Regions from separate parts of the Homo sapiens genome. Here region 2 is linked to region 1. Evidence: fine-mapped expression QTL. A gene starts in region 1. The other region holds a variant in brackets. All regions are shown on one strand. Distances are between the middles of the regions. Region 1 holds the start of C2orf72 (chromosome 2 open reading frame 72). Region 2 holds the start of SPATA3 (spermatogenesis associated 3).

The links.
Region 2: its variant is fine-mapped to the expression of C2orf72 in testis (GTEx, PIP above 0.99).

Annotation. Positions count from the first base shown.
Region 1 is chr2:231,031,450-231,043,904 of GRCh38, reverse strand. It overlaps C2orf72 (chromosome 2 open reading frame 72), which reads right to left and starts at 6,382. Exons shown (of 3, transcript NM_001144994.2): 1 at 5,706-6,382; 2 at 2,496-2,609. The coding sequence starts at 6,339.
Region 2 is chr2:230,991,433-231,003,887 of GRCh38, reverse strand. It overlaps SPATA3 (spermatogenesis associated 3), which reads right to left and starts at 7,767. Exons shown (of 5, transcript NM_139073.5): 1 at 7,354-7,767; 2 at 3,351-3,522; 3 at 1,061-1,204. The coding sequence starts at 7,654. The coding sequence ends at 1,099. SPATA3-AS1 (SPATA3 antisense RNA 1) reads left to right here and starts at 7,856. Exons shown (of 6, transcript NR_033879.1): 1 at 7,856-8,040; 2 at 8,503-8,611; 3 at 11,486-11,554; 4 at 11,913-12,119. RefSeq lists an enhancer at 7,723-8,256. The variant C/G (reference allele first, on the strand shown) is at 3,459.

The DNA of each region.
Region 1 (12,455 bases):
GTGTTCACACAACAAAAATCCCCTAAAGATGTATTTTTCAGAATGTATATCCCTGTCATTAAGCAACTCATGATTGTATAAATGCATGTAATTATGATATCCTATATTTATCATATGCTATCAATGTGTGTACATAGTCCATAAATGCCATTTGCATTTTAATACATTCACTTCTATATGAGATTTGTACATACCACAGAGAGAGAAATTATCCAAGATTTATGTAAAATGGTTAATGATTCTGTTGCTTCATCTTTTCTCCTTTAGTTTCCAAGTATATCCAAAATGATGGTGGAGAGGTTGAAGTTAGCATTTTTGCAATTAAACATTTTAAATATCTACTGCATTTTGAAGATGATATAGAAGTGAGTTTATTAAATTTTAAAGAGCACAAGGAGAGATAGGTAAATAGAATGGCGTACCCCAAAATATAATTGTAGTTATCTCTGAATGATGGAATTAAGTGAATGATGTTTCACATTTGTTTTCTTTCTTTTTTTTTTTTGTACTTTTTTTTGAGTTTTCAAACATGACAGGCAGAATTCTAAGACAGCCCCCAAGATTCTGGCCCCTTATAAAGCCCTTCCTTGAGTCTGGATGGGCTCTGTGAATGTGATAGCTTAGTCACTCTGGGGAGTAGGTTGTCTCTCTGACAAATGCAATGGCTAGTGACTACCTTGACTCCTTAGGTTATGTGGACTCCCTCCTAGCAGACTGGAGAGCGGGGTTCTCCTGCTGATTGAAGGAGGATCTCTTGTGAGAGGGCTTGTGAGAGCAAGGAATGGCAGGGGCCTCTTGGAGCTGAGAGCAGCCCCAGCTGACAGCCAGCAAGAAGTCAGACACCTAATCAATGCCTTTGAAGCTGCTAAGCTTGTGATTATTTATTTATTTATTTATTTTGAGACGGAGTTTCACTCTTGTTGCCTAGGCTGGAGTGCAATGGCACAACCTTGGCTCACTGCAACCTCCACCTCCGGGGTCCAAGCAGTTCTTCTGCCTCAGCCTCCCAAGTAGCTGGGATTACAGGCATGTGCCACCACACCCGGCTAATTTTGTATTTTTAGTAGAGATAGAGTTTCACCATGTTGGTCAGGCTGGGCTTGAACTCCTGACCTCAGGTCATCTGCCCACCTTGGCCTCCCAAAGTGCTGGGATTACAGGCATGAGTCACCATGCCCAACCTACTTGCGATCATTTCTTATGCAGCAATGAAGACTGACACATCAACTAATGGTTTTCTTTCTTAAATGAGAGACACAATGAAAGTTAATTTTGAACCACCATCCATTGTTTCTGTAACAAAGCTATACTTCTCAGTGCACTTTGGGATGGGCTGTGTGCATTCAGCAGGCTACACCATGCTTCCGAGTACTGTAGCCACCCCCATCCATGGCGTCACTATCCGCAGTTTCAGTTACCTGCGGTACAGTCCAATAAGATATTTTCAGAGAGATACCTCATTCCTGTAACTTTTGTTATATATTGTTAAATGTCTTAACTGTGCCTAGTTTATAAATTAAGCTTTATCGTAGGTATATATGTACAGTAAAAAACACAGTGTATACGTAGGGCTTGGTGCTACCCATGGTTTTAGGCATCCACAGGTGTCTTAAAGCATCTCACGTGGATAAGGGGGGGATCAGTGCGCTTCCTATCTCTCTAACATCAGCATTGACATGGAGGGGTGTCTTCCCCTTCCCCTTCTCCCTCATTTCCATTTAGTGGCCTGATGATTCCACCTAGGAGTGGCTCCGGGTGAGTTTTCTCCCCTCCATTCCCACTGCCCAGGTCGGGCCCAGGCCGCCTGTTATCCCTCCTGGGACACGACAGCCTCCTCCTAGGTGGGCTCTGCCGAGGTGTCTCCCTCTCCTAGAGTCCATCTCTCTAAACACACCCCAATCTCTCTGCTCAGAAATCGCTCATGGCACACTACTCCTGAAGGCTGCACATCTGGGACACTGATTTGGTCCAAACTCTTCCCTTCAGCCTTGGCCCTCACTGGTTTCCTTCTGCACCTCACTCCCAGGGCCTCTCGAAGGTGGTCCCTTTTCTGAGCATGACATCATGCTGTCACTCCTTAGCTCAGTGCTCCTTTTCCAAAACTTCCCATTTCTGCCTACGAAAATCCCTCCATCCCCGGATCAAATATCACTTGCTCTAGGATACTCCCTGGACCCTCCAGGGAGACTTGCTGTGTTTGGTCCCATGCACGTCCCATGCACCCCACCATGCTCCTGGAGACACCTTTGTTACAGCCCTCCCCATACTGCCTTCATTAGGTGGAGACTCCTGGGGAAAGAGCCCAGCCTGACCGAGCCCATGTGCCCACTGCCTGGCATATGGGCACCTCACATTGCTCATCCCCACACCTGGCACATGGCAAGCACTCCATAGATGTTGGTCCACTCTGTCCCTAAGGTCCCCAAGTTCACGTGACCACTCCCATAATTCCATGCACCTGGCCCTCAGGATGCAGGAGGTCGGGGAGCACTCACCCTGAGCTGAGCTTCTGCAGGCAGCAACATCCTGGTTCTTCCTCCGGCTCCAGGGACCCCAGGAAAAGCAGGCTAGCAGTCCGGGGAGGCCTGGCCTCTCCCAGGCTCCTTCCACTAGGAAGAACACAAAACCTGAGTCAGAGGGTCACATGGTTCCCACTTCACAAGACTGAGAGATTTCGTTTAGCAAATCAAGTGCCCCAACGGTCAACTGCCCTAGTTTCAACTGTCTGATTAAAAACACAGAGTCTGATTTGCAAAAGTGGGTGGGTTTTTAAAACCGAACTTTAAAAATGATTGCTTTACTTTTATCTATGTTATCTCATTTAATTCTTACAAAAGCCCTGTGATGTAGGTACCATGTTGAGGAAATAAAGCAATGAAAATGACATGAAATTAATTACAATTACATAGCACCAAACAAAATACTCAAAGAGCTGCACGTTCCCTCTGATTTTAGTTCAAACTATTTCTTGGCAGGAATAGATACATTTTTTAGTAATCTATAAAGTCAACAGGAACTAGGTTGTTTATTTTATTTATTTATTTATTTTTAAAAGACTTCAGGCAACCAAAACAAGGAAAATCCTTGTTCATAATCTTTATTCAGGACCAATTTACTCTTAACCCGCACCCAAAGGTAAAGAGACTGTATCCTTAGTTTTTCAACCCAAAGGCAGCTGGATTAGGTACCACGAACTGGGTAAAAGGGCACTGCCAAAAGGCAAGCAACCTAGAATAAGAATTATCATCAGACGGTGAGGAAAGAAATTGGAAAACTTTAAAAAAACAGATCCAACCACTAGCGAAATCTTAGTGACATGAATCCATTTGGTGTGAAGATAATAGTTCTGCCCACTGCAAAAGCTGCAAAGAAATCAGTGGGCTATAAGTTATAATTCCACTCACGACCTTTAGTCATTTGCGAGAGGTTTAATTTTGTTCAGTATGTTTTTATAAAAGTAGGAAAGCGCTTAACATAGAGAACAATTCCCTTGCAAAGTGTTAAAATCTCAAAAGTATTAGTGTTTATTTAAAAGGAAGGGAGGATTCATTCACTCTGTCTGCATGCCAGGCAGGGTATCAGGAAATGGGACTGCAGATGGTGTTTAAACCCACAAGGGAACAAAATCATGTTCACAAGGGAACGAAATCATGTGGTAAGAGCTCAGAGAGCAAAGGGATAAAGGGTTCTGGGATTTCGCCAGTGAACTTGCAAGTGGGAGCAGGGAAGGTCAAGGGAGGCTTCCCGGAGGAGGAAGTCCAGTTCTGAATGCACAAATGGGATTGGCCAGGTGAGGAGGAGGGAGGAGAAAAGGCTCTTCAGGCTCAGGCAACAGCAATGTGTCTACAAAAAGCTTAGGAGGGACAGGGCGTGGTAGTTCATGCCTGTAATCCCAGCACTTTGGGAGGCCAAAGTGGGTGGATCACTTGAGGTCAGGAGTTCGAGACTAGCCTGGTCAATATGGCGAAACCCCGTCTCTACCAAAAAAACAAAAATTAGCTGGGTGTGGTGGCAGACGCCTGTAGTCCTAGCTACTTGGGAGGCTGAGGCAGAAGAATTGCTTGAGACTGGGAGGCAGAGGTTGCAGTGAGCAGAGATCGCATCATTGCACTCCAGCCTGGGCAACAAAGAGAGACTTCATCTAAAAAAAAAAAAAATGCATGCACTCATTAGGGTATAGAAAATGTGTGTGAATTCCCTTCTTTCTATTGGAGGCCTGGTCAGCAAAGGGGTTGAAACAAAAATCAGAACAATCACAGCCTCAACAAAAAAATGGATTGCACCCTAAGGGAGGAGGGTTAGGGCAGGCGCGCTCGCCCAGGCAGGCCAGGCTGGCAGGTGAATGTGACATTGGCAGCATCACAGGTGACAGGTCTCCTTGCTGGGACCCTCCGCCCCCCAACCAACGCCAATACTCCAGGAGACACACAATACAGCCACTTTCTTCATTATCTACTTAAGAGGAAGGGGCTGGAGGGCTTGAAGGGCTGCCCAGCTGGGCAGGGAGAGAAAGCTGGGAGCTGGAGAGTGCAAAGATCTCCCGGGTTTGCCAGATGCAGCTACTCTTTTTTTTTTTTTTTTTTAATACTTTAAGTTTTAGGGTACATGTGCACAACGTGCGGGTTTGTTACATATGTATACATATGCCATGTTAGTGTGCTGCACCCATTAACTCGTCATTTAGCATTAGGTATATCTCCTAATGCTATCCCTCCTCCCTCCCCCTACGCCACAACAGTCCCTGGTGTGTGATGTTCCCCTTCCTGTGTCCATGTGTTCTCATTATTCAATTCCCACCTACGAGTGAGAACATGCTGTGTTTGGTTTTTTGTCCTTGCGATAGCCAGATGCAGCTACTCTTAATGTGCATATTTTCATCCTAGAACATTGGAGAGTTCCTGTAAAGCCTTGTGTTCCAGGAGGAAGGAGATCCTGACCCTTCTGCTGATGGCAGCAGTCACGGGGGCTGGGAAAAGACCCTTAAATCCCTTCCACCTTTCAGGAGAATGTGGAGGGAAAAGGTGGCCTCAGCAGACCTGGGGGAGGCTGAGGGACACAGCAGTTGGGTGCACAGCCTTGGTGGGTGGCCAGAAATCAATAGAAAATGTACTCTTAGTCCCTCTCACCTCCCCACACGTCAAGTCCCGAGCACCCATTCCTTGCCCTCTTCCTAAAACCAGGCAGGGCTTCCAGGACGAGCCTCCACCGCGCTGGAGATGCCCCTCCGCCCCTCCTAGAGCTCCCGACGCATCTCTGGCTGCGCAGCGCCCTAGAATTTAGCTTCTGGCACCGCCAATCTCCTTAGCACCCATCCACCCCCTTGAAACTTTCCCATCCCAAGGCTTTCCCATTTCCTTCCCCACTCCTCTTCTCTCCCCACCCCCACCCACCCCGTAACTCCTAGATCTCGGCCTTGCCCGATTCATCCCTTCTCTCTACCCACTCCCTCTGCCTTCTACTCGGCCCCTCAGCTTTCCCACGCCCCCTAGGCATCTCCCGTGCACTCCGGACCCTTCCGGGACAGACTCGATCCGCTACGCACGGCCCGCTCTCCGCTAGCTGCGAGGCCTGGCTCTAGGCACCTCCCTGCTCTGAGCCTCAGTTTACCTCGGTGCTCAATAAGGGAATGGCCAAAGGGGTCCAACTTGGGGGACGTGCCCGAGCCACCGCCCGCCCGCGCCCAGCCGGGCCCCGCGCAGTCTCACCTGGTTGCCCGGCTCCGGCGGCTTGCAGGGCCCTGCAGGCGGCCGCCTGGACGGCCAGGCAGGAGGCCGGGAGGCCGGGGCAGTAGGCGGCCGCCTGCACGGGCCCCCCCGCCTGGCGGCCGAACACGGCGCGCAACAGCGCCTCCAGCAGCCGCAGCCCCGGCGCCACCGCGTCCTCTGGCCCGGCCTCGGCCACCAGCACCCCGACCAGCGCCGCCCCGGCCCGCCGCCGGCCGCGCACGTCCCGCAGCATCTCCCGCAGGCGGCGCCGCGGCTCCCGGGCGGCCAGCGACGACGCGCGGCACAGCACGAAGACCAGCGGCGAGCGGATGGCGCGCGCCGCCGCCGCCGCCGCCCCCGCCGCCCCAGCCGCCCTCGCCGCCCTCTGCGCCCCGCGCGCCGCCCCGGGCCCCGCGCCCTCTGCCGCCGCGCCGCCCGGCTTGGCCGCGCCTGGCTCCGGCGGGAACACCGCCCGTGCGAAGTCCCGCAGCAGCGCGCGGCTCTGTTCGCGCTCCCACAGCTCGCCCACCAGCAGCACCTGCCCGCGGCCCCCCGCCGCTTCCACCAACGCCTGGAAGGGCGGCTCGGCAGGGCGCGCAAGCCGGGCCGCCAGCGCCTCCAGCTCGCGCTCCATGCTGGCCGCCGCCCGCCCTCTGCGGCCGCCGCGGCCCGGGCGCACCCGCTGCCCGCCTCTCGGGGCGGTGGCGCCCCGGCACAGAGGACACGCCCCCGAGGGCCGAGCCCAGCCGGACCCCCGGGCCCCCGGGCGGGGCCTCTGTGTGCACGCGCCCCTGGGCGCAGCCCGCATCGCGGGCCCGGGTGGGAGGAAGAGGGCTTTCTCCTCAGCCCTCCAAGGGTGGCTCCTCCCGAAGTCCCTGCGCAGACGCGGGGAAACAGAGAGTCATTCATTCATTCATTTGTTCGTCCATCCCACACATACTTACTGCGCACCTACTATGTGCAGGCGCTGGGCAGCCGAGGTTGGGAAGACAGACAATTATCCCCTCACTAGATAAGATCGTTTGGAGACCTGGAGCAGAGTCCTGCACAGTTTGGGGTCTTGCCGAGGTGGGGTGGGAGGTAGGGGGGTAGGGGGCGGAGGGCGCAGAAGTGGGTAGGAAGGTGAGATAAAAGAGAACACGCAGGGGTTATTTCTGCCACCCAGCTTTCCTTTTGGGCTTCAACATTTAGCAAAAACTGACCGAGGGTCCATTATTTCCACAAATACTTATTGTACCACCCCAGGCGCTGGGGTTGAAACCCAGACTGTTTCCGTAAAGCAGAAAGTCTAGGGGGCCAGATGCAGGACACGGATGGTGCTCTGATCTGCGTGGGGAGCAAGGGGCCAGCCAGGTCAGAAGCAGGAATGCATTTCCCTTCCTTCTAAGGATCTAGGTCAGCCTTGTCCAATAGAACATTCTGTGATGATGGAAAACTTTTTTATTGTCTGCACCATATGTGACTATTATTGAGTACCTGAAATCTGGCGAGTGCAACTGAAGAACTGAGTATTACATTTCACGTAATTTGTAATGAAATGTAAAATTAAAGCAGAAAGTGACAAGATGATAATGTACTTAAAGGGCTGGCACCTTTCTCTGAATAGTACCCTAAAGACGCCGCAGAAGCAAGAGGGGAGTTGGTAAGGACTCTGAGAAACCAATGTAAAACCAGGGAAGGCCTGTCGCCTCCTCCCCTCAGTGCCATAGAAGGGGGATAGGCTGAGTGAACGCTATACACTTGTGCTCTTTTCTTTGCTTGCATTGGCCTGAGTAGACCATTTCTCAACCCCATCTCCCCAGCACTGCTGGGAGGCAGAAAACAGCTGTGCTAGCCAGGGATGGCATATCAGGCTGGGGCTAGCAGCACAGAAAAACCAGACCCGGCAGCCTCTTCTTCCCACTTCATGGGTCAGGAATTCCAACCACGAGACCTGCCTCATGAAAGAGGATTGGCCAGGGGAGAGTGCCCAGAAGCTCCCTGAGTGGGGTGTCTGGTGTGTGTGAGGGTGGCACATGGGGAGTGGCTACATTCACATTTGATGCCAGAGGCAAGTCCCATCACACCCCCATTCCTTAAGCTCCCAGGTGGGATATATAGGAAGAGCCTAGGTTTTAGTCTCTTCCAGGTGTACCTATCGCCAACCAAAGTAGCTGATATCTAGGGAAACATGAATTCACTGGGAAAAATAATTAGACTTCTGGGGCCGGGCGCTGTGGCTTGTGTCTGTAATCCCAGCACTTTGGGAGGCCAAGGCAGGTGGATCACCTGAGGTCGGGGATTGGAGGCCAGCCTGACCAACATGGAGAAACCCAGTCTCTACTAAAAATACAAAATTAGCCAGGCATGGTGGTGCATGCCTGTAGTCCCAGCTACTTGGGAGGCTAAGGCAGGAGAATGGCTTGAACCCAGGAGGTGGAGGTTTTGGTGAGCTGAGATCGTGCCATTGCACTCCAGCCTGGGCATCAAGAGCGAAACTCTGTCTCAAAAAATAAATAAATGAATAAAATAAAATAAAAAATAAAAAACAGTTAGGCTTCTGGAAAGTATAAAACAAAGCAGGTTTAATGGATATATGAATTAAGATTCATTTCTTAATAACACAGACAACACTAATAACAATGAAAATTTCTTTTTCTCTTTTGTAGACGTTTGGGGATGGACAGTTTATGGCTGAAATAGTATAATAGTTCTGCTTTACTAGGTGTTTGAAGACTCAGATTTCATACCAAGTCACTATTGCCCTCTGACATCTTCATAATCCAAATTGGCTGCTAAAGCTTGGGCCATCACACCTGTATTCCCAGAAGCTGGGTAGTAGAAGGACTGAGGAAGGAACAAAAATCTGGTTGACTTCAGATTTCTTAGCAACAACATTGGGTTTAAGAAAAAATGGAAAAATTGTTTTAAAGTATCAAAGAAAAATAACTTTGACCCTAGATTTGGATTTCTAGCTAAATTATCAGGTATATAAAGAATCAGAAGGCGTATCACATATAGCCCCTCTTTGAAAACACTATTGGAGGAAGTGCCCTATCAAAAAGGGAACTAAATCTGGCTGGGCATGGTGGCTCACTCCTGTTACCCCAGCACTTTGTAGACTGAGGCTGGCAGATCATCTGAAGTCAGGAGTTCAAGACCAGCCTGGCCAAAATGGTGAAACCCCGTCTCCAATAAAAATACAAAAATTAGCTGGGCATGGTGGTGTGTGCCTGTAATCCCAGCTACTTGGGAGGCTGAGGCAGGAGACTCGCTTGAACCCAGGAGACGGAGGTTGCGGTGAGCCAAGATTATACCAGTGTACTCCAGCCTGGGTGACAGAGTGAGACTATCTTAAAAAAAAAAAAAAAAAAAGAGGAACTAAGAGTGCTCAATAATAGCAAGTAAGAGGGATTAAATCACTTGTCTAAATAACAGTGCAAGGCCATGCCAGCAAAGCACAGCCTAAGTGGGTATAATAAACTGGGAGGGTGGGTGGCAGAGCCAGGGTGAAACCTACAAGTTGACCAGAAAGGGAATTAACCCCATCCAGGTCACCTCTGAGGAAGAGAGAAAGACAAGTTCTAGAGAAGCACTGTCAGGTATACTGGGATTTTTAGCACATTCTTACAAGGCTTGTCTAAAACCAACATGCTCTGCCTCCTGAACTATATATTCTCAGCCTCTAAATCTCCACAACTAATTACAAATTTCCATAGGCGGGATGCGGGATGGATCAGAGGGGGGTGGAATGTTAAACGAAGGTTGGAGTCCAGGGCCAGTAAAGTTTATCTTTATCTGTGTTATTTACACAGCAAAGGTTCTGGTATTAAATTAACAGGAAACTGCAAAGATCTTTTTTTTTTTTTTAAAAAAAGGCAAGATGCCAAGAATATTTCTTCCTCCTCTCCCACCGCACCTTAGAAAAACATCATAAAATTAATGGACTTCTTCTTTCTCTGGTGTTCAATGAAGATATAAAGTAAACTGGGATTTTTGAAATACTTTACCTCTTCATGTTCATTTAAACAGAATTTGGTGGGAATCAAGTGATAAGAGACTGGTGTGGTGGCTCACACCTGTAATCCCGGTACTTTGGGAAACTGAGGTGGAAGGATTTCTTGAGCCCAGGAGTTTTAGACCAGCCTGGGCATCATAGCGAGACCCCATCCCTAAATAAACAAACAAACAAAAATCAAACAGCTAGTTGGGTATGGCAGTGTGTATCTAGTCACAGTTACTCCTTGGGAGGTTGGGGTGGGTGGATGGCTTGAGCCCGAGAGGTCGAGGCTGCAGTGAGCCGTGATTGTGCCACTGCACTCCAGCCTGGGTGAGAGATCAAGGACTTGTCTCAAAAAAAAAAAAAAAAAAAAAAAAGTGACCAGAAAGTGTTGGTTTGGAAAACAAGGAGTAATCTCCCTCTAGTTGCTTGCCAGCTCCTTTTCCCTCTTTACTCACACTCTGTCACCCTATTCTCCTCTCCTTCTTTCTTCCTTTCCCCGCTTCCCCTCTCCCCACCTCCCCCTTTCTCTCTTCTTTCCTTTCCTTCCTCTCTTCTCTCCCTGTACTTTTCCGCTTTTTCCCTAAGATGTTTGATTTGGGGGCTAAAAGGAAGGCTGGACCTGGGGAGACTTTCTGGCTTCCTGGGGAGCTGGGTGGAGGGAGGAAGATCTTTAACATGAGGAAGACCTCAGAGGGAAAGGAAATTGGAGGAGCCCCCAGGACCCACGGAGGAAAGAGGCTGAGGTGGGAAGAGGGGCTGGAAACTTGAAACTGGGTCTAACAAGTGCTGGGTGCCCCTGAGGTGGAGCAGGCCTGCTCGCTGGTGTGCTGGGACTTCGTTTCCTCCTCTGCCAGGCCCAGGCTGGTTCCCATGAGGGCACCAGGAATGCAGATCTCTGTGCCAGCTGGTGTTCTTATGGGGGTCAAATATCTCAATTTCGCCTGAACTTTAGGGGTCTGGTGAAGGTTTGTTAACCCACTTATGCAGGAGGTTGCAATTTTTTGAATTGCAGACATGTGTGAAAAATCAGACCTTGGCAATGACCTTGAGCAGCAGGAAATAAATAACTCCCACATGCTTAGCGTTCCAATAATGGAACACTAGGAATAAATGGGATTGAAGAAGCCTGCAGGAAATGCTGACGGGCAGAGACCAGGCTTCAGTGCCTATCATGCTCCTGCTGAGCCCTGGACTAGTCAGTGGTGCCAGGAGGAGGGGCAGGCAGGCCCCCAGGACACACCTGTACTGGCTGAGGGCATCACAGTGGGGGCAGTCCTCCGTCAGCCAACACCTGGCACATAACTGTGGGGAGAGTGTCTACACCTGTCACCTTGGTGGCCACAGCTGCAAGGTGACTTCGTGGGGATCTGTGAGCATCTGAGGCCCCAGTAGGGGTGAGGAGGAGAACAGCAGCTCATTTGTGCAGCAAGGACATATGGTGACTTCGAAGCCACTCAATTTGGGCCTCCTTTCAAATCTACTGGGCCAGATCAAGTTAGAGCTTCAGTGTAAGTCTCCCAAGGTCCCCTCCTGGGAGAATGGCACCAGCCAAAATTGGCCAGGAAGAAACCATGGTCTCTAAGAGTTGAATGGGACCCTGGTTGGCCTTTCCCTCCCCCAGGACAGGGCTGCACCAACTGCACCCAAGCTGGCACCTCAACTGTCAGGCCCATTGAGGTTAAAGTGGAGCAAAGAGCAGTTATTACTGGAGGCAACCTTATTCCTCCCCCAAGTCTCAGAGCAGGTGCCCTTTTATAGACTATCAAATACAATGTGAGCTGTATCTGTGGGGTGGGCATGAGGGCCGGTGCCCACCACAGACGCCCTGCCCCTGTACCTGTATGTCTCATTCTGTTCACTTTCTGCAGCTCCTCGGTCCCCGGCTGATGAAAAAATAGGAAGTGTGCAAGTGTTGGGGCAATGGGCAGTGGGTGACTTCATGATCATCGTTCATGAGGTGCCTGATATAGAACAAGGTGACCATTAAAATAATCTTATGATAACCTTAGTTGCCCAAGCCAGCTCCTGGCCAGTGCCTCTCTTTCCCAGAGGGGTGGATCAAGAACCCGGTCAGGAAGATGGGCTCAGTGAGTGCATGGAAACATGAGGTTCCTCTGCACCAGATCTTGTCAGAGCTCTGTGACTGACCCTGACGTGACTCTGCAGGACAGGGAGCTTCTGTGATCACTGGCTAGAGGATGTTCAGCTTACCAATTTCAGGTTGCACTGGACAAAGATGATGGCGGTGTTGCTAATGACACTAAGGTGGCACCACCTCACCACTTTAGAGAAACTCTCGCTTCACCACTTTAGAGAAGCCTCTTATCAGTGGTAGCGGCAGATGGACAGGCAGTGGTTGCCAGTAGAGCTTTCTGCAATGAAGAAATTGTTCTAAATCTGTGCTATCCAGTACAGTAGCCACTAGTCACATGAGGCTATTGAACAGCTGAGATGTGGCTTGTGTGACTGAGGAACTGCATTTAAAGTTTTGTTTAATTTTAAGTAATGTAAAGTTAAGTTTAAATGGCACGTGTGGCTAGTGGCTCCCATATTGGACAGCACAGGTCTAGAAGGTATGCTATCATCATTCTCTTCCAAGGTTGATTTATTTCCATGGCCTGATTAACAACTTAGTTTAGATTGGTTTTCAGGTTTAGACAGTGACAGGACAAAGGTACTGGCTGTGGCAGACACTGTTGGTTTTCTGCTCATTGGCCACTCATGCTTACTGAGCCCTGATTTTGGTGTAAAAGCAATGGACCCAGCCT
Region 2 (12,455 bases), 40 kb after region 1:
TCTTCAAGCCTCACAATAACCCTACAAGGTAGGTTCTATCATTTCACTCCACTGGGAGAGAGGAACCTTGGGAAATAATATATTACGCCCACTGCAAAGGCAAGGAAAACAGACGATTATCCCCTTTTTGGGCTGGTGCATCCACTGCCCAACTCCTGTGAGTTGTGAATGTGCTGCTAATAGCTCAGAGCTGCCCCTCCTCTAGGGAAGCACCCTCAGCCCAAAGGGAGCTGCTCTTTCCACAAAGACATGCAGTCCCTACCCAACACTCAGAGCCAAAGCACTGACAAGGAGGAGCACCAGAGGGCAAGTCTCTCCCCTCTGCTGAGACTAACTCTGTGTCATCATTCTTGTTCCAGGGCTCCCACAGGGTCAAGCTGAGGTCTGGCCTCCTGCCTCTCAGCTCCTTCCCTTGCCTCTTCTTGCCTCCCTCACTCCCTCACTCCCTGAGAGCACCTCCTCAATAAACCTGTCCATTCAACCCCAGTCTCAGGCTCTGCTTCCAGGGATGAGGGAAGATGGCTGCATGAGCCATGCCCCTTGCCCTCAGGGGTCTTGCAGGACAGATGGGAGACAGGCCACAGGCAAACGACAGGATCATCCACAACACAGGAGGCACAGGTGGAGAGGACAGGGGTTGAGAAGATGGAAGACGTCATTGAAGTTGGGAAGATGGAGAAAGGTTTCATGGAAGAAGGGGGCTTTATGGGTGATGGACTGGTAGGACTGGGTAGGAGACAAGCTTTCCAGGCAGGGAGAAAGTTCCAAGAAAGGTCCGAGATGGGTAGAAACCTTTGCCCCCATCCCTCCCATTTCCTCTTGTCCAGGGTCCATGACCAGGGACACCATCCCGGGGCAGAGGAGGTGGGGGCTCTGTTTAGATGATTGTAATAATGAGTCTAGCGTCATCTGAGAGCATCAGGTCTTCCCTAGAGGGCCATGCCGGCTGACCCTGAGGCCAGGAGGGAGTCACTCCACTGGCAAGCTTCCCTTGAGAGGCCGGGGCTTGGTCCACCTGAAGAGACCACCTCCATTCGAAGGGACAGAGCGCTCAACATACCTGCCAGACTGTGGGCCTAGGGGCTTGTTCACAAGGATTCAGTGATGTAGTAGGCAGCTCCTAGAGCCCCCAGAGCCACAGCCACAGTTCCGAGGGCTTGGAGGACACGCGTTACGATGACTGGAGGGTTTTCTTGAAGATTTTCTGTAGAGCAAAGCAGAAGTGGGGGTGGTGGGAAGCTGGGCTTCAGTGCCTCTCTACGAACAGGAGAAAGTGGAAATTATGTGGCCCCCTCAGGATTGCAGGAATACCCATCTTCCCCCTCTCCAAACTCCTCTTAGGAGAGCATTTAATTCTTCCCATCCTTCCAACAAGTCCCTACTGAAAGACCCCTGAGGATCGGAGGGTGAGCTGGCCTGGGATGCTAGCTGCCCTGAACACTCAGAAGGGGACCAGGTTAGGAAGGTGGTCAAGTCTGCTGTGAGCCAGGCCTTGTGCTAAATACCTCACACCCAGTGTCTTCTTCCAGCCTCACAACAACCCTATGAGGTAAGTTCTATCACTTCACTCCATTGAGAGAAAGGAACTTGGGAAATAATATATTACACCCACACAAAGGCAAGGAAAACATGACTAAGGCAATAATTGTGAGGAGGGCATTCAAAAAATGCAATACCCGTTTTGATAAAAATCCTACAAAAATAGGGATTCTTGTTTAATGTGAATGTGGATTGAAAGCCAAGAGCCAACATTACACTCCATTGAGAAAAGCATGCCAGTGCTAAAATTGGAGCAGAATTAAAACTACATGTCTTGCCCTGGCCAGATATGGACCCTGTCTCTCCCTGCTCACTTTCCTGATTCTGAGCCTCACGCTTGCCTTTTCCTGCACCCAGATTGCTCCCGCTTTTCATCTTAAGCCAGAGAGGACTTCAAGATCCTTCTGGACTCGGCTCACATGCTGTTGACAGGAACCTTTCAGAGGTTCCTGTTGGAGCCTGTTCCTGTTGGAACCTTTCAGAGGTTCCTGTTGGAGCCTCTCCTAGAGGACACAAGGCTCTTTGCATCTTGCATCTTGGTTTCTAAATGCATGGGTCTTAGCTCTCCATGTCGACTGCAACAATTTTAGGGGTAAAGTTCCCTGTTCTGGTTTCCCTCACAGTGCCCCATGTCCTCTGCATAGTAAGTTTCCCTCAATAACACTTGCTGGTTTTAAAACGATATGAACCCATGGCACGATTTGGCCATGGATGGATGGAAGTACTAAGCGTGTGGGCAGGGTGTGGCTAACGGTGGCAGGCAGACCTTTCCTTGACGGAGCTTACTGGGTGGTGGAGTATTTTTGGCTCCAAGCGTGTTCTCCCCACACGCCCCGGTATCTATTTACTTATCTCCATGTGTAGGAGAGATGGAGTTTTTCAGCTCCAGAAAGGAGAGGGGATTGGGTAGGGAAGAGGCTGGGAAGAGGAACAGGACAAGGATGGGGGTTGGGGGGCCTCAGTTCCTGGGGTGGGGGTGTGAGGTCGCCAAGTGGAAGGGCCTCTTCCATTGAGATCTGTGAGGCCCTCAGGTGGGGCAGATGGCGACCCCTCTCCCAGCCCATGCATGTAACCTAGCAGCGCCCAAACGTGGGAACATCTCCAGTCTGTTCCCTGCATGGATGGGGTCTTCCTATGAGGGCGGTGGCAGCCATGACACTGCTCCTGGTGGCTTTTTGGGAAGAGGAAGGAAGGACAGATACTATGGGTGATGTCATGGGGGCCGCCACCAACAGACCAGCCTGGGGGCAGATGTTCCCTGTGGAGACCCCCAGAAAGAGCCCAGCACAGTCTGAAGGGGGCTGACGTCTTGCTATTGTGTGGAGGAGGCATATGAGTTACAAGTAGTTTTTTATCATTAAATTCTGGGCGACATTCGTAGGCAGATCAGGAACCTAAGGCCCCTGCCTATGACACAGGCCACTGAGGGCCCACGGAGGTGCATGGCCAAACAGTGTTTAAACACAAAGCTCCTGAGCGACTCTGTGAAGGGCTGAGGGGGAGAGTGTTCTGAGGAGGGGAGGGCATCTCTGGAGAAAAGAAAAAGGAAGCCCCTGAGGAGGAATCCCAGTGAGGAAGAAAACTGGCACCTCTCTGTACAGGCGGGGTGGGTACCCCGGGGGTGGGGCCGGTCAGAAAGGGCCCTGCCTGCCAACGTCCAGGAAGTGGGCAAAGCAAAGAGGGAAAGAAAGGCTTTCCTTCGGCCTGGGATTCCCAAGAGGAAGTGATACATGATTGCTAATAAGGTCTGGGGGCAGAGCCTGGCCCTGGGGACTGTGTGCCCCGAGGCTCCAGCCCCTCGCGCTTGGAACCTGTAGAAGGTGAGCAGGTTGGGGAGTCCTCTCCCTGGCGCCATCTGCCAGTCCCGAGGCAGAAGGACATCGAAGATGCGGCTATGGCATAGCCCCAGACGACGCCAG[C/G]AAGCGGAGCTGCAGGGGCAAGTGGCACAGGAGCAGGAATGCGGGCCGGCGCGAATCAGAGGCCCTGTGGGGACAGAAGGAGAGAGGTGAGGGAGGCACCTGCCCTGGGAGGCTGGGGCGGGGGAGTCTGGAACACAGTCTGAGAAGGCCCCCCACAACGGCAGCAGCTGCAGGATTACCAGGGCGAACGCTGGATTTTTTCCAAGGCATCATTGAGGATTTGGGACTGAACTACCTAAGGAAGGCAGTTCTCCCACAAAATGTTCTCTAACCAAACAGAAGAGAAGACTGACCGCATGGGAAAATGGCTGTTTTATACTGGTGCTACCTGGGAGTAGCAACAGCGACGACAACAACGATGATGATGATGGAGGTGGTGCTGATGGTGCCATGGCTTACACCTTCAGGATGCTTTGCACTTAGCATGCTCATCTCATTTAATTTCACAGTAATCCTGTAAAGGGGATACTGCTGGTCTTGTTTTACAAATAAGGAAACTGAGGCTCAGCTAATTTAAGGGATATGCCCTTTTGGGGAGTAGATTACAGAAGTTGGCTTTCTCAACTCAGGCTTTCTCACGTTTAATTCAGTGAAAATGGAATTTCAGGTGACTGCTCACCTCAGGAGAGGCTGCACTGACATTCCTGGAATTGGAGCTGCCACGTTCCATTGATCTAGAGCATTCTGATCCATCCAGAAGACAACCACAGCTCTAGTTTCCAGTCCCGATCCTATTTTCTGTTTCTGTCCTCCTCTGGTATGGATCCCAGCAGAATGTAGATGATGCCCTCTGTGGTTGGGCAAGATAATTTCTGGCTGGATTATTCCCTCCTGTTTCCTATCTGTAGCCCTGCGTCTTCTTGACAGAGCTACAGATTCTTCTGACCCTAAGCTGCATGAAACAGGTGGTCAACCTGGCAGATTCAATACACTTTCTGCTTAGACTTGCCCACGACACGTACTTTCCCGGAATGAGGAGAGGGGATTCTAAAGGCAAGACTTGTCTTTTTTTTTAATTACAAAAAAGTTTTTAAATTGAGATATCATTCCCAGGCAATAAAATTCACCCTTTTAGAGTGCTCAGTGGTTTTTAGTATATTCACAAAGTTTTGTGGCCATCACCACTAATTTCAGAACGTCTTCATTTCCCCAAAAAGAAACCCCATCTCCATGAGCAGTTACTCCCCACTCTCCCATTTCCCCCAGTCCCTGGCAATACATTTGCCTATTCTGAACATTTCATGTAAATAGAATCATTCGATGTGTGGGTTTCTGGGAGACTGGATTCTTTCACTTAGCCAAGTGTCTATAAGGTTCATCCAGGCTGTACCATGTATCAGGACACTATCTCTTTTTATTGCCAAATAGTATTTCACCATACTCATTGTACTGTGGTATTTCATACCACATTTTGTTTATCCATTCATCAGCTGATGGACATTTGGGTTGTTCCCACTTTTTGGCTATTACAAATGCTGCTGCTTTGAGCATTTGTGTACAAGTTTTGGTGTGCTTCTAATATGCTTAATAAGATGCTTCGAATTCTCTTGGATGTATACTGAGAAGTGGAATTGCTGGGTCATAAGGTAACTTCATGTTCCTCTGAGGAACCACCAGACTGTTTCCACAGCAGCTGCACCATTTTACATTCCCGCCTACAGTGTATGAGGATTCCAGCTTCTCTACATCCTCACCAACACTTGTTATTGTCCATCCTTCTGATTATACCCATCCTAGTGGAAGACTGGCATTTTCTTGAGCTACAATATTTCTGCACACAAAAAGGCTTGGATTTTAGAAAATGGCACGCTTTACTTGCAGGCCCTCATCCTTCATCTCCAACATTCCTTTCTACGCAGAGAATTCCTTTGGAAGAAGTATAGGGTGTCTGCTGTAACCACTGGCGAGCCACCACCATTTCTTGCTTTCTTGCTTTGCCTGTTCAATGGGCCAAATTCTTCTCTGAGTATGAGTCACATGTGTTCATTAAAAGACTTGGGAATGGAAAGTCTTGCTTTCTACCAGTACTGAAGATGCCAGTTCTGAAGATCATAACCCAGAAATGTTTCTCTCACTGGCTGATGATCACAATCTTTACAACATATAGTATGGTGCTCAAAATCAATATCATATGTCAAGAAAGGTTTGATTCCTGGCCATGGAAGGATCATTGGCATGGCATGCCTTATATTTAGCACTCTCATCTCCATCACTTATTTATTTTATGCCCACACAATCCCGGGGGGTAAACTGTGGCCCAGGGAGTGTGGCCTGTTCAAGGCTATGGAGTCGTGGGCACTGGCTCATGGCAGATCCAGGAGATGCTCGGACAGAGATGTTCTTCCTCTTGTGGAGACTCCTAGGCCTCTTGGAATGGAAAGGTCAGTGCTGTGGTTTAAAGTGAGGGTTCTGGAGTCAGAATAGAGTGGGTTTCCCTTCTCAGGGCTACCAGCGTCTGCTCAGGAGCAACCTGTTTGACTCCTATGAGCCTCAGTTTCCCCATCTATAAAATGGAGATAATATGGAAGAACTTTTATAGGATTATCACGTGTGAAAATTAAGACACCTGATCTGAATGCTAGGTACACAGTAAATGCTTAGTGATAATGTTAGTTTGCTATCACCATTATTGTTAGTAGTATAAACCAGCCCACCTCCTGAACTCCACTTGAATTCCCTCTACACAATCCAATGCTTATACAGACACTGTTTGGCTCCCAAGAAGACAGGGAACCACTTTTCCTGACAGCCATTCCATTTTCAGACAGAGCTAATTGTTGGGAAGTTTTTTATGTTGAGCCGAAGGCTTTCTGTCACTAATGTCTTCCATGGGTAAGATTGCTAATTTAGCAAATAAAAATATAGGATGCCCATGCAATACTGGGGACACACATACTAAAAATATTATTTGTTGTTTACTAAAATTAAAATTTAACTGAGAGTCTTGTATTTTGTCTGGCTATCCTATCCATGGGCCTGTATTTGTCTGTTTTCACACTGCTGATAAAGACATATCTGAGACTAGGCAATTTACAAAAGAAAGAGGTTTGTGGAACTTACAGTTCCACGTGGCTGGGGAGGCCTCACAATCATGGTGGAAGGTGAAAGGCACATCTCACATGGCGGCAGACAAGAGAAGAGAGTTTGTGCAGGGAAACTCCCTTTTTTAAAACCATTAGATCTCATGAAACTTATTCACTATCACGAGAACACCACGGAAAAGACCCTCCCCCGTGATTCAATCACTTCCCACTGGGTCCTTCCTACAACACCTGGGAATTCAAGAAGAGATTTGGGTGGGGACACAGCCAAACCACATCAGACCCTTAGATCTCTGAGGACAATAAGGAACAAGTCTATTCACATCTTCCACTTGACAGACAGACATCCTCCAATTCCTTCAATTGACTGTCATACACTAAATGGTCTCCCTGATCCTTCTCATCCTCCATCAACCCAGACTATCTTCCTTGGACTAGTTTGTCAGGCATCTTTTACAGCCCAAAAGGATAGCTTGATGAGGACAGAATAAAGCAGTATCATCACCTCCCTTATTCTAAACCATATACTTCTATAAATGCATCCTTGGTTTTTATTTTTTAGCAGTTGCATGGCACTGCTGATTCCTAGTGAGCAAGTATTACTATGGAACCAAGTTAAATGTTTATATGTATGTGTGGCTGTCTTCAGTGAGACTCAGGATGATGAGAAATGACAAAACCCAGGAATCCTGGTCTCTTGGGTAGAAACAAAAACAAAAACCTTCCCACTCTACAGCACAGCTCCAGGATACACGTTAACCATGCATCACTATCCTACAAGAACCAGCCTTTGGGATGACCCAGAACTCCATCAGCAGGAAGGCTGGAACTGCTGAAGCTAGAAGACAGCCCACCTGCTTTCCTGGATTGAGGGGCTGCCTTCACGTTAGCATCTGGAGATAAAAGGCAGCAAGAGGAGCGGCGGATTTCGGGTGCTGGAAGGGCTTGGAATGCTGGCTGCCGGGAGGTGGTTTCAAGGCTGGAATGCTGTGGTGTGGATTCAGGGCTAGGCTGCTGTGGTGTGGATTCAGGACTAGGCTGCTGTGGTGTGGATTCAGGGCTAGGCTGCTGAGAGGTGGAATTGGAGCTAGCATGCTGGGAGGTGGAGTCTCGGTGGCGTCTGGCCTCTGACCTTTTCTTCTTGACCTTCTTCATGGTAGATCCTCCCAACCTAAACGTGGACCTACATGGAGCTGCGTAATCTCCCGGCTCCCTCCTGGAGGGGCCGTTTGCCCTCTGCCCTAGGAGCCTGGCTTGGGCCTCCAGCTGGACCCAGGCCCCACAGAGAACAGTGACCCACACCTCCTGTGAGGTCATAAAAGCCAGGGTGGCTCCTATGGCAGGGCTTCAAGGGACAGTCTTCTCTGCAGACACCAGCCTGGTGTCCTCCTTCATCCCAGGCTGCCAGGCTAGGCAGGGGACAGCGGCTGCCCTGGTCCTCACAGCCCTGGCTACGGGGCTGGTGACAGCCAGATCCTCATGCTTCTGCGACCTGAGCGCTGCCTTCAGACACCTCTCTGCTGGCGTGTTCCTGGGTCCATGTGAGCTACCTGTTTTGCTCTAAGATACCCTGGATGTGACGCTCAGCTCTGTCACTGGCTTCCACATACCCCCTACTCCTACACCTCAAAAATCCATGTTCCCCACGCATTCATCTTCAGGTCAGCTTCCTGAAGATTTGGAGCTTCTTCGAAGGCTTTACCATGGCCCAGAGCCTGCTACCATCTCAGAGTAGCTTACCCCTTCCCCCAAAGCCTGCCCTCCCGCACTGTGGGAGGGGAGTTTGGGGGTTGACTTGACTTTTATAAGAACCTTTGCATTTGGCAGATAATTTTCCCTGAGAACATAACAGCTGTTCAGAAAACTAACATTTGTCTCAAACTCATGGCAATGGCAACCACAGACTATCTCCCAAACCCCAATTGGTTGGGTTAAACAGGTGACTGAATCTTTCTCTAGATTAATTAATTTAATGTGCTCATTAAATGTGATTTTTGTTTTAGGATGGAAGAAGGAAAAGTATTTTTAAAAGACAATCTGAAGCTCATACTGTGACTGCAACATAAAATGTGTTCACCTGAGGAGACTGCTTTCATCGCCAGTGTGTCACAGGTGGGTGAGTGTGGGACTGGCAAGCGCAGGAGCTCCTGCCCCAGCGGAAGGTTTAGAGCAGACCTATGCAGATAAAAAGGGCTTCGGTCACGCCTGTAATCCCAGCACTTTGGGAGGCTGAGGCGGGCAGATCACGAGGTCAGGAGATTGAGACCATCCTGGCTGACATGGTGAAACCCCGTCTCTACTAAAAATACAAAAAATTAGCCGGGCGTGGTGGTGGGTGCCTGTAGTCCCAGCTACTCGGCAGGAGAATGGCGTGAACCTTGGAGGTGGAGCTTTCAGTGAGCCGAGATCGTGCCACTGCACTCCAGCCTGGGCGACAGAGCGAGACTCTGTCTTAAAAAAAAATGGGGGGCTTTGGGCCACACAAAGCCAGACCCAACATGAACTCTGAAATGACAGGACATAGTTTAGGGCTTCTAGAGCCTAAAAATACCTTAATGATGACCTTTCCTCAGAACACTGAGGTTTAGCGAAATTAAGTTACTTTCCCAGGGTCACACAGCTGGCTGGGGGCATCGGAAGGACTAAATTCCAGTTTGGGGCTCATTATTTTCATGATCCCAGAAAACAATAGGGAGTCAGATAATTATACAGGCTTTGAAATAATGAATTAAAAAGTCCCCCAGTGGCCTGGTGCGGTGGCTCACGCCTATAATCCCAGCACTTTGGGAGGCTGAGGCGGGCAGATCATGAGGTCAAGAGATTGAGACCATCCTGGCCAACCAACATGGTGAAAACCTGTCTCTACTAAAAATACAAAAATTAGCTGGGCATGGTGGTGCACGCCTGTAGTCCCAGGTACTCAGGAGGCTGAGGCAGGAGAATCACTTGAACCTGTGAGGCGGAGGTTGTGGTGAGCCGAGATTGTGCCACTGCACTCCAGCCTGACGACAGAGTGAGACTCGTCTCAAAAAAAAAAAAAAGGTCCCTGAGCGAGAAGATTGAAGAAAACAAAGGCAGGAAGGATCAGAAGTGAAGGCAAGCTCAGCTCAAGAGTATTGGGTTGTGTTTGGTTGACCTTGGCCTAAGGAGGCTCTGGGAGCAAGTGAATCTGTATGAAGCTGGTAATTTCCTGAAGCCAAGAGCAATGGAACCCTTGAGGGGACTCCATTTAGAATCAGAGAGACTGGAAACCGAGGCCGGGAACCCTGTTGAGATCTAGCAGACAGCTCAGGAACTCCTAAGGCATTAATCTCTGCAAAGTTGGATTTTCAGGTACCAATGGGCTTCGGCCGAGGGCCTCAACCTGGTTTAAATCAGTGTTTTTCAACCTCAGCCCTGTTGACATTTTTGGGCTGAGTAATTCTTTGTTGTGGCGGGTCATCCTGTGTATTGTAGGAAGTTTACCAGATCCCTGGTCTTTACCCAGTCTTTACTCCCCCCTACCCCAGGACAACCCAAAATGTCTCCAGATATTGCTAAATGTCCCCTAGAGATGGGGTAGGAGTGTGTGTGTCCACATTGCCCCTGATTGTGCCATGTTGGTGTAAATGAATCAGATAGGAGCAGACACATATAGGTAGAACTTCCTGGTAGCAATGAAAGAAATATTCCATTTTACCAGAAGGAGCCAAACAGGGCACAGAGAATGAGTCTCTGTCTTCCTGTAGAAAGATGGAGGAAGCACAGAGGGCAGGCCGAGGGAGGAGTGGGGAATTTCTCTGTGGCAGCAGCAAAAATATGTGTGAATTCTTTAGTAAGAGTGGTCCCAAGAAGCAGAGAGAGGGCACCTGTGGAAAGAGGTTGTCCCAGAAGAATGAGGAAGAATGGTCCCTCAATAGCTCCTTGCTAGAACGTCTTCCCTGCAGCCCCCACCTTCTTCTTCTTCTTCTTTTTGTTTTTGTTTTCAGAGTCTCACTCTGTCTCCAGGAGTGCAGTGGCCCAATTTTGGCTCACTGCAACCTCCACCTCCCGGGTTCAACTGATTCTCCTGCCTCAGCCTCCCGAGTAGCTTACAGGCATGCTCCAGGCTCCTGAGTAGATTACAGACATGCGCCGCCATGCCTGACTAATTTTTATAGTTTTAGTGGAGACAGGGTTTCACTCTGTTGGCCAGGCTGGTCTCGAACTCCTGACCTCAAGTGATCTGCCTGCCTTGGCCTCCGTAAGTGTTGGGATTACAGGCATGAGCCACTGCGCCTGGCCCCACTGCTTTCTGTTTGAGCACCTGTTCCTATACAGGAAGCCTGGCTCTTCCATAATACAGCCACAGCCCACTGCCCAGTGCTTATCAGCCACTACTACTACCTGTGTCCAGCTCTAGCTAACCGTGAACATCAGAGATCTCATGAACAGGCTGAACATTCCTGCATTTTCAGAAGCCCTTCTCCTCTATCATCCCTCTCTGCACCTCTACCAAAGCATTTTCTGGTCAAGCCCTATCTCAAGTGGATAAATCTCTTCATAAAGCCTTTCTAAGCTGGGCACAGTGGCTCATGCCTGTAATCCCAGCACTTTGAGAGGCTGAGGCGGGCGGATCACCTGAGGTCAGGAGTTTGAGACCAGCCTGGCCAACATGGCAAAATCCTGTCTCTACTAAAAATATAAAAAAATCAGCTGGGCATGGTGGCACACGCCTGTGGTCCCAGCTACTCAGGAGGCTAAGGCAGGAGAATTGCTTGAAACCCGGGAAGTGGAGGTTGCAGTGAGCGGAGATCGCGCCACTGCACTCCAAGCCTGGGCCACAGAGCGAGACTCCATCTCAAAAAAAAAAAAAAAAAAAAAAAGCCTTTCTTGAGATCTCCAACTGGAAGCCATCCTTCCCTTGCTGCTGAGCTCCGGGGCACCTCTTTGTATGAGACTGGTCATATTCTGAACGGCATTAGAATTATTTCTGTCTCTGCCTTCCCTCTCATTCCCCAACCCCAGATGGTGGAAACCTCAGAAGGCCACAGTCCAGAGTAGGGGCTTAATGCAAGCTGCTGGAACTGAATAAAGGTAAAGTTAGGACAGAGAAAGCAGGAAGCTGCGACAGCAGGAAGCTGTGATGGGGGCAGGTGGGCATGTGGGATCAGGCACCTCCAAGGCTTCATCACCAAGGGGGTGTTTTCAAAAATGGACTGGGACTTCTCTGGCCTTGGCTGAGGATCACAGCTGGACTAGTCCATGGGCAAGGGAGTTTCCTAACTAGGGATGCCAGTCATGTGAAAATGCAGTAGACTAGGTAGGGGAAGGGAATTGGAAATTAGATAGTCAGAATAAGGTCTTGATGGGGTGAAAATTTCCTCCCAGAAGGTCTCTGATGGTTCTGGTTTCCTGGGCACCTAGAATAAGTGTGTCACCATTTGTCCTGAAGCTGACTTCTCTGAGCTGGATGGCACCCTGGACATCAACCAGCCCTTCACCTTCACGTCACACAGGAGGGACACTGGTCCATAGAGAGGATGCCTGCTCTGGTCACCAGCTGGAGAGTGGCAGACCTTGGGTACCTGACCTTTGGACTCTGCCACACAGAGCACTTCCTCAGTCCCTCCTGCTGCCCCTGGCAGGGTGGAGCTGGCAGGTAGGTTGCGGGACTTGGCGCTCCCTCAAGATCTCACTGCCCAGGGACCTTAGACTGACAAATTAATCCCGTGGGCCACAGGCCTGGTCTCCATAACAGAAAGGGTCTCAAGAGTTGCGAAGGAGAATCCTGAAGTCGGCCAGCTAGTCTAGCGGAGTTCCACCTGAGAGGGTTGCCATGAGGATCCAGGTGAAAAGCCCTTAGAACAGCGCCTGACTCACAAAAGGCGTGCTTTTAGTGTTATTATTCTTCCCTGGAGAAGACTAAAGAAGCAAGCAAGGGAGAGGAGGATGTGGAGAGGAGGGAGTGGGGCCCCGTTTCTACAAAGTCCCAAAT